2 separate regions of the Homo sapiens genome follow, and region 1 is linked to region 2. A link means that fine-mapping ties the variant in region 2 to the expression of a gene that starts in the linked region. Tissue or cell type: aorta. Region 2 holds a variant in brackets; the other region holds the start of a gene. All regions are shown on one strand. Distances are between the middles of the regions.

Evidence for each region. PIP is the estimated chance that this variant, and not a neighbour inherited with it, causes the effect. A credible set is the group of variants that fine-mapping cannot tell apart.
Region 1: it holds the start of ALDH7A1, and the variant in region 2 is the best candidate, but not a certain one, in a credible set for the expression of ALDH7A1 in aorta (GTEx, PIP 0.53).

What each region holds. Positions count from the first base shown.
Region 1 is chr5:126,593,033-126,597,274 of GRCh38, forward strand. It overlaps ALDH7A1 (aldehyde dehydrogenase 7 family member A1), which reads right to left and starts at 2,187. Exons shown (of 18, transcript NM_001182.5): 1 at 1,975-2,187; 2 at 319-372. The coding sequence starts at 2,166.
Region 2 is chr5:126,542,324-126,546,565 of GRCh38, forward strand. ALDH7A1 (aldehyde dehydrogenase 7 family member A1) reads right to left here. Exons shown (of 18, transcript NM_001182.5): 17 at 4,001-4,076; 18 at 1-2,696. The coding sequence ends at 2,642. Among named protein-coding and RNA genes, the nearest start is that of ALDH7A1, 51 kb to the right of the region's middle. RefSeq lists enhancers at 1,414-1,708, 2,075-2,124. The variant T/C (reference allele first, on the strand shown) is at 2,574.

The DNA of each region.
Region 1 (4,242 bases), 51 kb after region 2:
AGAAGCTTCATTCTAACAAAATCCTCAGGTACTTCAGAAGCACTGCCTTAAATGGCCCCCTGCCTAATCTTTCTACGCTTCACCTTTTCTATGGTTCTTTCCTTTTCACGCCCCCACCCAAGAGAGGACAGTCTCCCCCAGACAGTCCTAAATGACAAATGAAAAATAAACACATTATTCTCTTCATTTGTGATTTTATATTATTCTTGACCTGCCTAACTGGCTTCTGCCTCTAAAGAAAGCCTGCACAAACTCCTTGTGTATAATTTGAATTAAACACACACACACACACACACACACACACACACACACTCTTACCTGTCGGACTCTTGCTATTGGCTCGTTGTTAGCAGGGCAATAGGTCGTAATAACCTTAAAACAAAAGGATGATGATCATGTATAGAAAACGTAATCCCTTTTGAAGTAAGGGAATAGACCAAACGGGGAAGAAAAACAAGAGAGGAAAAAATGATATAATACCCAAACTCAAAAAGCTTAGGTTAACTTCTGTTACATATAAACCACTCTACAGAGGTTGTCTTTCATTTCTGACTTAAACATTAGAAACTACCTTTCTGCAAAACTCGCCTCTGACATCTCAATATTAGGCATATAAACAAAAGCCTTAACATAAGCAGTTATTTTGTCTCTTTTTCCATTAATAACAGACCAAACTGACTAGTTTTAGTTATTTCTTCTCTTCCTTACTCTGCCCACCCTCTGCTCAGAGATGAAATGGCCAAGGCAGGAAAACTGTTGGAAAGTCCCGTGTCCACACCAACTGGAGAGGTCTCAGGTCAACAATGAAAGGGAAAATCAAGGCACAGCTAAAAAGGCCTCCAAGAGCCTAATGATCAGATACCACACGGAAATCAGGATGAAACACCGAGGTCTGAGGAGCAATTAAAATTATCTGTATCTCCTACAGCCACTGATTACCAAAAGACGTGTTCCCTCTACCAAGGCAGGTTCATTATATAATATACAACGTCCAACAAAGTTTGTTAACTGTTACATAACATCCTCCTATAAAAAACTTTCTTTTAAAAAAAAATCTGGGCGATAATAACCTTACCTTTCCATTGTATTCTATAAAACATTGTTTTGAGCAGTAATGGGTATCAGGCGCGGTGTTAAGCCCTGGGCAATGGAGAAATGCTGAAAATCCAGTCCTCAAAGGAGTTCACAGCCCAACGTACAACATGGCAAGATTTCGGCACGTCCAAGCTTGCAAACTCCCAAAGAATTCAGGAAGGAAGATAACTTAAAACTACACTGAAGAACGTTACCTGCGGTGCACGTCACAGCTGAAGAGCCAGAGTTAAGCTCTAAATTAAGATCAGTTGCACCGCTCAGTGTGCCACATTTCTCACAAGACCATAGATCCCAAGACCATAAGGTTTTAATTTTTTTTTTTTTTTTTTTTTTTGAGACGGAATTTCGCTCTTGTTGCTCAGGCTGGAGTGCAATGGCACGATCTCGGCTCACTACGACCTCCACCTCCCGGGTTCAAGCGATTCTCCTGCCTCAGCCTCCCTAGTAGCTGGGATTACAGGCATGCGCCACCACGCCCGGCTATTTTGTATTTTTTTTAGTAGAGACAAGGTTTCTCCATGTCGGTCAGGCTGGTCTTGAACTCGCTACCTCAGGTGATCCGCCCGCCTAGGCCTCCCAAAGTGCTGGGATTACAGGGGTGAGCCACCGCGCCCGGTAGACCATAATGTTTTAAATATGCGCGGGAAGTTTAGCCCCTACAGCTCCAAAATGACGTCGATTCTGCATAGCACACAAGGACCTAAAATCTAAGTTTTTGTTTTAAAGGCACCCTACACGAGAAAACTTTTACTGTGGAGCTTCAAAATCTCCCATGCTACTACCGCATCCAGCGCCAGCGGGGAGTCGGTAGGTCAGTGCCCGCCCGGCCTCCTCGAGCGAGCCCCGGCGGCTGCAGAGATTTCTTGAGCGCCCGCGTACCTCTCCCCGGCCTCCCCAGCTTCCATTATACACGCCCTCGTTTTCCTCGCGGAGCCCCAGCTCTTTCAGCCACGCATACTGGGGCTGATTGATGAGGAGAGTGGACATGAAGGCGGCAGGCCTGCTCCAAGGTCCAGAGAGCTTGCTGGTCTTTGCAGCGTGCACACACAGCGCGCGAGGAAGGCGCCACATACTGAGCCCGGGACTCGGGATGAGCCCAAGGCCCTGAGAGCTGCTGAAATAGAGCCCCGCCCCCCGCCCGGGAGAACCCATTGGGCAGACCCGACCCCTCCCACTGGGCACGACCCCGCCACCGCCCCGTCTGCCCCTGGTCTTCCGGAGGAGCCTGCGGCTGAATCCTGCCTGGAACAATGGGAGTGCTACAGGGAGGAGTGGGCTGCTGCCATCTGGTGAAAGACTCCGGGAGCCACAGTTCCAGCTGGGAATTCTTTTCAGCAAAATATTGGCGCTGAAGTACAGTAGGCTATAGCAGGGGTTCTGAAACTGTAAAATGCGTGTAATGACCTGGTCGTCGTGGTAAATGCACATTCTGATTCAGTAAGTCTGGGCTAGGGTCGGAGAGCCGACATTCCTAACCAGCTCCTCAGCGATGGTGACGCCTCTTGTCCCTGGAGTAGGCAACGGAGGGTTTGTATTGGGGGGCGGGGGAAGGGTTGGTTGTTTTCACTGTTTTGGTAGATTACAAATTAAAGTTTTCTAATTAATGATAAATATTAGATTGCTGCATTTCCTCTATAAATATCCTGCCTGGGTATATTCTTACTTTTTTTTTTTTTTTTTTTTTTTGGAAACGGAGTTTCGCTCTTCTTGCCCAAGCTAGAGTGCAACGGCGCGATCTCGGCTCACTGCAACCTCCGCCTACCGGGTTCAAGCGGATTCTCTTGCCTCAGCCTCCTGAGTAGCTGGGATTACAGGTGTGCACCACCACACCCGGCTAATTTTTTGTATTTTTAGGACAAACGGGGTTTCACCATGTTAGTCAGGCTGGTCTGGAACTCCTGACCTGAGATGATCTGCCCGCCTCAGCCTCCGAAAGTGCTGGGATTAGAGACATGAGCCACTGCGCCCGGCCTCTTACTTTTTTTTTTTTAAGATGGAGTCTCGCCCTATCGCCCAGGCTGGAGTGCAATGGCACGATCTCCACTCACTGCAACTTCAACCTCCCAGGTTCAAGTGATTCTCCTGCCTCAGCCTCCCCAGTAGCTGGGATTACAGGTGCACACCACCACACCAGCTAATTTTTGTATTTTTAGTAGAGACGGGGTTTCTCCCTGTTGGCCAGGCTGCTCTCGAACTCCTGACCTCGTGATCTGCCCGCCTCTGCCTCCCAAAGTGCTGGGATTACAGGCGTGAGCCACTGTGTCCGGCCTATTCTTACATTTTTTTTTTTTTTTTGAGACGTAGTCTCGCACTGTTGCCAGGGCTGGAGTCCAGTGGCGCAATCTCGGCTCACTGCAACCTCCGCCTCCCGGGTTCACGCGATTCTCCTTGCCTCAGCCTCCTGCGTAGCTGGGATTACAGGCGCCCACCACCACGCTTGGCCAATTTTTTGTATTTTGAGTAGAGAAGGGGTTTCACTATGTTGGCCAGACTGGTCTCGAATTCCTGACCTCGTGATCCGCCCACCTCAGCCTCCCAAAGTGCTGGGATTACAGGTGTGAGCCACCACGCCCAGCTCTTACTCTTAAAGAATAAAGACAGTTTTGATCAATTTCTTTCATTCTCCATTTCTGTCTTCCTACAATATCCTTTCCATTCATGCATGCCCCATCTCATTTCACAACAACTGGGCCTACCCTGTAAAACGGAAATACTAATATCTCAATCATCATTATTTGAACATGAGTTTAAAATATGCTTGCCCACGCTAGAGTGCAGTGGCAGGATCATGGCTTACTGAAGCCTCGACCTCCGAGGCTCTAGTGATCCTCCTACCTCAACCTCCCAAGTAGCTGGGACTACAGGCATGCCATCACACCCAGCTAATTTTTGAGGATTTTTTGTAGAGACAGGGTTCCCCCATGTTGCCCAGGCTGGTCCGCACCTCCTCGGCTCAAGGGATCTGCCTTGCGCCTCCCAAAGAGCTGGGATTACAGGCTTGAGCCACCACTCCTGGCCCCTTTCATCTCTGCATTCAAACATAAGCTTTATCTCTTCCACCCTTATAGTACAAATGATTTGAACAAACACTCTGCATGTATCAAGCAGCTACCAGAAACTGCAGTTAGTACTAGGCATACATGAATG
Region 2 (4,242 bases):
CCCTCTTGGTCCCTTCAGCATTTTCAGGAGACAGAATGCCACAGAGAATTTTCCACAGAGCTGGGCATGGTGGCACACTCCTGTAATCCCAACAACTCAAGAGGCTGAGGCAGGAGGATCGCTTGAGGCCACAAGTTCAAGACGAGCATGAGCAATGTAGTATGACCCAATCTTTACAAAAAAAAATAATAATCAGCTGGGCACAGTGGCATGCACCTGTAGTCCCAGCTACTGGGGAGCATGAGGTGGAAGGATAGATTGAGCCCAGGAGTTGGAGGCTGCAGTGAGCCACTATTGCACCACTGCACTCCAGTGTGGGCAAAACTGAGACACCAAAAAAAAAGAAGTGTTCTGTGGTTGCAGAGCAAGAGAGAGAGGAGGCTTAACAGATTCCCACCCTGAAAGAGAAAGTAGGAAGCAGAGTACATAATAGCACTCAATTTCCTTTGAGAAAACTGCCTTCCCTCCATTGTGAGAAGTCTTCACCTGGAGGGCCTGCCTCCTCACTGCTGCAGCCAGGAGCCAGGTCTTCACCCACTTCCCAGGGAGTCACAAGAGCCTGGCTGCTAGGCTCAGCGAATGGATGCTCTCTCCAAGTACAGCAAGATCCTAAGCAAGTTAGGCTTTAGTGCCGTGGCAGAAGCAAGCATGCTGAACACAATTCCCCGCATCCACAATGGAGGCTGGGCATTGCCAGCAGTAGCGGTTGGAACACAGGATTTAGGAGGAGGCAGCAGTTATGAAATGCTCAAGATAACCAGTAATGAGCAGCACAAGACCCCTTGCACCTTCAAATATAAGACCAGTAATAACACTTACAAATGTACATTTTAACTTGGATAGTTAAAAATACTAACAAGTGATTTATATCTGCTAAATCAGCAAAAAAGAACAAAGAGGAACAAATTGAAGGCATATGTTTTAATGAACATTATAACCAAAAAAAATTGAGTCCTTGTGCTAGAAACATGTAGAAGAAAAATTATAAATTTGTTTCAAAGAAAGCTTTCAGAATCAGTTTTACCTAAAATCTATAGCTAAGATTATCACTCCCACATACCCTCACCCATGATTTCTTCCTGCCAACCTTCTCTCAATAGCTATATCAGTATTTGGCTTGATTCATGTTCAATATTGACAACAGCATGTCTAGTTAAATACTGCTCGCAGCTGGCCATGGGACATATTATGAATACCTTTGCTTCCCAGATACATTTATAATTGTTTAGTTTTTCATTTGCTTACTTCTCTGGGCCATAATTCAACCCCAAATTATTTGCCATTTGTCCAGATCTCTCCACATCCTGATGGATCAGGTTGTCTACAAATGTCATCTTGTTCAAAGGCCTCTGCTCCATTCTAACCTGGCAGGAGTAGAGGGGTGCCATGCAGAAGGGGAGCAGAGAATGCCAGGAAGGCAGGAGAACAGGGGCCTCTGGGCTGAACCAGCCCAAAGGCTCCTGTGCAGCTTCCCAGTGAGAAAAGGTGAGACTGTCAGCAAAGAGAAAGTGAACTTTGCCCAGCTCTCTATGACCACATGCTGCCACACACACTGAGGATTGAGAACAGATCCAAGGGCAACCGCAGACGCCTAAAGCTAAAGAAGGTGGTCTAAGGTTGTATAAAAAAATCCAGATGCACTTTTTTTTTTTTTTTTTTTTGTAGACAGGATCTCACTGTTGCCCAGGCAGTGGCACAATCTAGGCTCACTGCAACCTCTGCCTCCTGGGTTCACACAATTCTCCTGCCTCAGCCTCCCTAATAGCTGGGATTACAGGTGCCTGCCACCACACTGGGCTAATTTTTGTATTTTTTGGTAAAGACGGGGTTTCACGATATCGGCCAGGCTGGTCTCAAACTCCTAGCCTCTACTGATCCACCCGCCTCGGCCTCTCAAAGTGCTGGGATTATAGGCGTAAGCCACCTTGCCCAGCCTCCAGACGCATTTTCTATACAACTCTGCACGGGCAATTTTGGCCTCAGAGTCCTCCAGCAGGTGGCAGACTCCAGCACAGGAACAAAATCTGTCTACCCCAGAAATCTCTTCCAAGTTGACACAGCCTTCATAAGCAAGAGCCATAACTGTGATGAATGCCTGTTGTCATTTTAAGCACTGCAAGTTATTCCACATGAATACTGAACTGTGGTCCAAGCATACAGGGGAATGCATCCCCCTTTCAATCACACGACATCCAACACATGCCATAGGTGGGTAATGTCAAGCAATATTCACCCCCCGCCCCTGAATCCTTCACTTGGTCAGGAGACACCCTGTATCTACTGCAAAGACTTCTGTTTTCTCCTCGGTTCTGTATTTTCCCAAATTCCTACCCTGGTACGTACTATTTTTTTCTAATTACAAAATAATCATTAACTTTTAAAAAGCCATGTACAACTAGTTGACATAATAAAAATCCACCTAACTCATCTTTTAGTAACTATGGCTATGTTGTAACAATTTTATTTTGATTTTTAAAAAAGGAATCTCTTGATTTAATCAGGGCTTTGGGGTCATAGGGGGATTAGTCACTGTCACAGTCATAATAATGCATTTATTCAGGGAAAACTTTAAT[T/C]TTCTTTGTCTTCTCCAAAAACAGCTGCTGGAACACCTCAAATTAAGGGATGTTCATCTAAAACACCTTTACTGAAACTTGATTCCTTGGGCCAGAGGAAGGTCTTTACTGTAGTTGATAGTACTAGTGGGAAAAAATAACAGAATTAATGACAGTACATACATAACAGAAGATTTTCATGCCCACTTTTAAAATGTAGCAGATCTGTATATATTAACAAGGCAAGATCTCCAAGTTACAACTTTTTAAGACAAACCTTTAAGATAAAAGACAATGTTAGTATGGATCCCGTTTTATTTAAAAGAAAAAAGACAGAAACATAAAAATCTGGAAAGACATACCATACATGGTTTTTTTTGTTGGTGGTGGTTTTTGTTTGTTTGTTTGTTTTGTTTTGAGACAGGGTCTCACTCTGTCACCCAGACTGGAGTGCAATGGCACAATCTCAGCTCACTGCAACCTCCGCCTCCCAGGCTCAAGCGATTCTCCTGCCTCAGCCTCCTGATTAGCTGTGCACCACCACGCCTGGCTAATTTTTGTATTTTTAGTAGAGACGGGGTTTCACCATGTTGGCCAGGCTGGTCTTGAACTCCTGACCTCAAATGATCCACCTGCCTCAGCCTCCTGAACTGCTTGGATTACAGGCATGAGCCACTGCAGGCGTGGATCACCTGAGGTCAGGAGTTCAAGACCAGCCTGGCCAACATGGTGAAACCCGGTCTCTACTAAAAATGCAAAAATTAGCCTGGCATGGTGGTGCAGGCCTGTGATGACAGCTACTTGGGAGGCTGAGGCAGGAGAATCGCTGGAATCTGGGAGGCGGAGGCTGAGGCTGCAGTGAGCTGAGATCAGGCCACTGCACTCCAGCCTGGGTGACAGAGCAAGACTCCATCTCAAAAAAAAAAAAAAGTGTGCCCTCAAAAGTGCAAGAAACAGCCCAGCATGGTGGCTCATGCCTGTAATCCCAGGACTTTGAGAGGCCGAGGCAGGCAGATCACCTGAGGTCAGGAGTTCAACAACAGCCTGGCCAACACGGTGAAACCCAATCTCTACTAAAAATACAAAAATTAGCCGGGTGCTGTGGCTCACGCCTGTAATCTCAGCACTTTGGGAGGCCAAGGCGGGTGGATCACCTGAGGTCGGGAGTTCGAGACCAGCCTGACCAACATGGAGAAACCCCAACTCTACTAAAAATACAGAAACCACGCACGAGACCATTTCATTGTTGGGTGCTGGGCACTAGCTGAAGCTAGACAAGAAGGCTAGAAAAATAGCACCAAATAGATACTTAGAGGAGACAGCTGTGGAATGCTGGAAAAATCAAATCAAATGACACTGCACAAAGACAGCACAGACAGTAGGAAAGTGTAAAAGCCCATTCCCAAGGGTTTTAAGCCCAAACCTATCTTCCCAAAGCCTTTTCTTACCAAGTAGACCTTCTCATGTACTGTTTCCAGGCATCACTGCCAGACTCCCTGCCACCACCAGTGTGCTTTTCTCCTCCTAGAGAAATAAAAAATAATATCATATCTTCTGAGCAGTTTCCATGTGGGCTCATAGTTGGTATCAATGAAAAGAAGATACCAAAAGGACACCAGAACAACCTGATTATTTACTTTACATTTAGCCCACAATATCTCCCCTGCAAACAAATCAAAGACAGAGACCA